Linked DNA regions of Homo sapiens: region 1 is linked to region 2. Evidence: fine-mapped expression QTL. Tissue or cell type: blood mononuclear cells. Region 2 holds a variant in brackets; the other region holds the start of a gene. All regions are shown on one strand. Distances are between the middles of the regions.

Region 1 (2,647 bases), 38 kb after region 2:
CAATTAGCCGGGCTTGGTGGCGCGCGCCTGTAATCCCGACTACTCGGGAGGCTGAGGCACGAGAATCGCTTGAACCCGGGAGGCGGAGGTTGCAGTGAGCGATGGTGCCACTGCACGCCTGGGCAACAGAATAAAACTCTGTCTCAAAAAAAAAAAAAAAAGGAAGAAGAGAATCTCTCTTAAAGACAGTGTTAGTATTAAAAGACACAAAGCCACATGGAGCACTTAACAGTGCTTGACACAAAACAAGTGCCCAACTAACAAAGAGCTGCTATTATCATTACTACTGTTAGAGACATGCCATCGGAGAAGCGGATGCCCGGCCTAGCATAACCTCCCTCAATGGGCCCCAGGATCCTCATCCCCAAAATGGGGCAGAGGTCAAGCTCTGCCCTGCAGCATCCGAGGGCAACTGTGAAGTAGGGACTGAACTAGCACTGTTGATACCATCCCGTTATACTGTCCTCCTGCTCATCATAATGTGGATTCCTGGAGAGCAAATCTTTGTTCCCGGGAAAACAGCCAGGGTTTAGCACGGTGCCCAACACCTAGTGGGCATTCAATAAACACACACTGAAGAAAGGAGGGAGTCCAAGAGCTGGCTTACTTTCTGCCATACATCGCGCTAAGAGTTTAATGTGGGTAGTATTACTGTCCCCGTTTTACAGATGAGGAAGCTGAGATCCACAGCGGTTAAAGCACCTGTCCAAGGTCACACCGCACGGAACCCAACCCAGGTCTGACTCCACCACCCGATCTCTCGGCCCTCAGGCAACACGGCCTCCCACAATGTGCGTCCCCAGAGCTCCCAGGACGGCCCACCTCGCCCACACCCTCCCAGGGCCCAACCACCCTGGGACCTCCAGTCGCTGCAGCGCAGGGACCACACCTCAGCGGCGGCCCAGAAACCCCCACCCCGCGTAGCAGCAGCCCACTTCCGGCCCGAGACCCCGCCCCCTGAGCAGAGCGCAGCGCGCGCCCCCAGGCCCAGCCCGCGCGCGCCGGGTGACGGCCCCGCCCTTCCCCCACCCGGCTCGAACAGCACCGCCGTGTGGAACGGCCCTGGCGCTGCCCGTAGGGCCTGCCCGCGCACGCCCGGCCTTGGCCCACGCGGCCGCCCCCCCAGCCGCACCCCCCGGGCCCGCTAGCCGGCTCACCGGCTCTCGGCAGAACCGCGTCCACTGCCCGCAACCGGCTCCGGTTCCGTCTTCGTCTCGTTCAAACCGCCAGACCCCGCCCGCCCGCCCGCGCGATGACCTCACACGCACCCCCTCGTTACGCGCCGACGTAAAGGCTCGCCATCCTCCGCCGGCTCCTTTTATAGAGAGGGTCTCAGCCGCGCGCCGGGGGCGGAGCTCGGCCCCTGATCCACAGAACGGTAGCCGAGGGGCGGGGCCCCGACCGCCGGGGCGACTGCGGCACGTGGTCGGTCGCAGCCAATGAGGTCCCGCCTCGGCCCGGTGTGACTCAGTTACAAAATCCCTATGGCAGTAACCAAAAAGAAAATTGCTTTTACAATGAATTTTTTTTTTTTTTTGCTTAGAGATGTATGGAGGTCTCGCTGTGTTGCCCAGGGTGGTCTCGAACTCTTGGCCTCAAGCGATCCTCCCGCCTTAGCCTCCCAAAGCGCTGGGATAACAGGCGTGAGCCACCGCTCCCAGGCTTACAATTAATTTCTGTAAGAATGGGTTATTGAATCATAAAGATACCTAATAGACACTTTGGGGAAACGCTTAGAAGTCAACTTTCTGGGCCGGGTGCAGTGGCTCACGCCTTTAATCCCAGCACTTTGGGAGGCCCAGGTGGGAGGATCACCTGAGGTCAGGAGTTTGAGACCAGCCTGGCCAACATAGTGAAACCCCATCTCTACTAAAAATACAAAAATTAGCCTGGCGTGGTGGTGGGCGCCTGTAATTCCAGCTACTTGGGAAGCTGAGGCAGGAGAATCACTTGAACCCAGGAGACGGAGGTGGCAGTGAGGCGAGACTGCACCACTGCACTCCAGTCTGGGCGACAGAGCAAGACTCTGTCTCAAAAAAAAAAAAAAAAAGTCACGTTCTGTGACGCCCCCGCCCCCCCATCTGCAATATCATGCGGCATATTTTCTTCTTAGTACCATAAGAAGGCATCTTGTGCCTTTACTGTCTGTCTCCTGTAAAGTCCACAGGAGCAAGGACCTCCTGAGTCCTGTTCCGGGTTGTTTCCCAATGGCTGTACATACATTCTCTCTTGCCCACTCCCTCTTTTTTTTTTTTTTTTTTTTAAGAGATGGGGTCTTGCCATGTTGCCCAGGCTGGGCTGGTCTCCTGGGCTCGAGAGATCCACCCGCATCGGCCTCCCAAAGTGCTGGGATTACAGGCGTGAGCCACCACACCTGGCCCTTACATTCTCAAGAGAGCCTTGGCTGAAGGAGGAACTGGGCTGGGCGTGGTGGCTCACACCTGTAATCCCAACACTTTGGGAGGCCAAGGCGGATGAATTACCTGAGGTCAGGAGTTGGAAACCAGCCTGTCCAACATGGCGAAACCCCATCTCTACTAAAAATGCAAAACTTAGCCGGGCATGGTGGTGGGCGCCTGTAATCCCAGCTACTTGGGAGGCTGAGGCAGGAGAATCACTTGAACCTGGGAGGCAGAGGTTGCAGTCA
Region 2 (2,647 bases):
TACAGCACTCCAGGACAAACACAGACATAAAATAATACATAAAACAAGTAGCGGGAAACTGGAAGATGCCAGGGAGTCCTCTTATAAAAGCAGGGTTCACCAAAACCAGAAGGCCAACTGGCTCCAGGACAGCGAAAGGCACAGTGGCTCCTCTGCTCCTCTGCCTTCTGCCCCATTTGAAATGGGGGACTTACAAATCCAGACTTCAGGGCAGGCCTAGACTTGATGCAGCCACTGCAATCTTGGTCCATGGTGCAATTTGGCAGACAAGTTGGTGAAAGGTAAGTTGTCTCCAGAGATTTCAATCAGGGACGTGGCTTCCAGATGTTAAAAGATACCCAGCTAAGTCACAAGGAAGTGGATGTTTTCAAATGCTAAGTGACCACCAAACAAAACATTCTCCCTGGGCCTTCACCACTCAGAGAACACCAACATACAAAAACAAAAGTCTGTTCCCATTTCATCAATAATGGAGTTTTAAGGATTTTGTCATAGTGTAGAATATTAAGAATGGATGAATAAAAAGTCAAAAAAGGTGCAGAGGTCCTATAAATCAGGGTTTATTAGACTAGATATTAATAAATTGGAAGGGTTTAAAAAAAAAAAGGCTGTTGGCCCTACATATGACAGTTTCCCATTGTTTCTTAGCTTAGTATATTTATTTTCCAACACAATGTTAGCAATTCTTACAGCAGTTCTTGCATTTTTCCAATAACATTTTTATTAATCAAATGGTATATATTTTTCACTATAACCTATTTTCACTGATTAATACATTTATCAGTATTTTAATGTGGCCTAAAATATGCTAAATTCTGTCACAATAAATATGTTTTTCCCTCCCTGGGGAGAAACACAAGTAAAAAAAGGAAAATATTAAGATGCATTCCACTTTTTAGTTAAGGAAAAGTTCAGAAAACTCCCATCTTTTTAAAAAAGAATGAAAATATGATCCTAAGTAACTCAGGTTAGAAAAACAGTAACAGAGCCAGGCGCAATGGCTCACGCCTATAATCCCAGCACTTTGGGA[A/G]GCTGAGGCAGGAGGATCACTTGAGCCCAGGAGTCTGAGATCAGCCCAGGCAACATAGTGAGACCATGTCTCTATTAAAAAAAAAAAAAAATTAAAGAGAGAAAAAAACAGTAATAATAAAACAAGTGGGGAGGAGGACATTTAGAAGAAAAATCTAGATAAACCTCTGCACAAAAATAATTTTGGAAAAAAGTTAGAAGTCCTACCTGAGATTAATTCAGGCGTCACTGGCTAATGCTAAGGGAATTCTGATTGGAAGGCAGCAACTCAGGGGCCCAAGGACCACATTAACAGATGCAATTACCTGCCCTAGAGAAGGCGCTTCCTCACACTCCCACTTAGCTGCAATGCCAATACTGTCCTTTCAAGCTTCAACCCTGTGATTTTAAGATATCAAAACTTGTATCCTTCTTCAGCTCTATGTAATTTGTCAAAAATTTCAAGATGCAACTCTATAGCCAAAAAGAGAGCCTTTTACTTTTTCAAACAAAAATAAACAAGAGAAGTCACTGACTGCTAAAACTAGAAGGGACCCTCAAGATTGGTATCACAGGATCACACCTTCATCTGGCAGTAGGTTGAGGTCAGTAACTCAGCTCACATGACATTTAAAACCACACAACACTACCAGAGAGAGCTACAGGTTCAGATGCCAATGGTTTCAAAAAACCATGATTCAGGCCGGGTGCAGTGGTTCACGCCTGTAAACCCAGCACTTTGGGAGGCCGAGGCAGGTGGATCACAAGGTCAGGAGTTTGAGACCAGCCTGGCCAACATGGTGAAATCCTGTTTCTACTAAAAACACAAAAATTAGCCAGGCACGGTGGTGCGTGCCTGTAATCTCAGCTACTCGGGAGGCTGAGGCAGGACAATCGCTTGAATCTGGGAGGCGGAGGTTGCAATTAGCCAAGATCGCACCACAGCACTCCAGCCCGGGCGACAACAGCAACACTCCGTCTTGAAAAAAAAAAAAACAAAAAAACCACGATTCAAGAAAAAGGCAGATTCTCCTGTGTTCAGCAGCTACTTTAAAAAAAAAAAAAAAAAAAAAGGCACTTCTTGGCCAGGAGTGGTGGAGGACTGCTTGAGCCCAGGAGTTTGAGACCAGCCTGGGGAACATAGCCAGACCCTGTCTCTACAAAAATAAAATTAGCTGAGCAGTTCCAGCTCCTTGGGAGGCTGAGGTGGGAGAATCACTTGAGCCCGGGAAGTCAAGGCTGCAGTGAGCCGTGACCATGCCACTGCACTCCAGCCTGGGTGACAGAGCGAGACCCTGCCTGGAAAAAAAACAACAACAACAACAAAAAAGCACTTCCTAATGATTGGGGAAAATATTAAATATTAGGTCAGAGAGTTAAACACTCTTAGAAATTTTTAAGAATACATTTATTTCACTCAACACTGAATCTTAAAATTATTACTTCTTCAGACCAGGCACGGTGGCTCAGGCCTGTAATCCCAGCACTTTGGGAGGCGGAGGAGGGCGGATCACTTGAGCTTAGGAGTTGCAGACCAACCTGCACAGCATAGTCAAACCCCATCCCTACCAAAAAAAAAAAAAAAAAAGAAAATTATTACTTCCTCTCTCAGGCTTCAAAATTAAGGAGGAGGGAGGGA

Evidence for each region. PIP is the estimated chance that this variant, and not a neighbour inherited with it, causes the effect.
Region 1: MAPRE1 starts here. The variant in region 2 is fine-mapped to the expression of MAPRE1 in blood mononuclear cells (TOPMed, PIP above 0.99). The same link has a PIP of 0.9 or more in T cells, esophagus muscle and tibial artery.

What each region holds. Positions count from the first base shown.
Region 1 is chr20:32,818,539-32,821,185 of GRCh38, reverse strand. It overlaps MAPRE1 (microtubule associated protein RP/EB family member 1), which reads right to left and starts at 1,232. Exons shown (of 7, transcript NM_012325.3): 1 at 1,158-1,232. RefSeq lists enhancers at 1-183, 184-853 and a silencer at 926-1,515.
Region 2 is chr20:32,856,044-32,858,690 of GRCh38, reverse strand. LOC119746555 (a long non-coding RNA gene) reads right to left here and starts at 2,059. Exons shown (of 1, transcript NR_171378.1): 1 at 1-2,059. The variant A/G (reference allele first, on the strand shown) is at 1,031.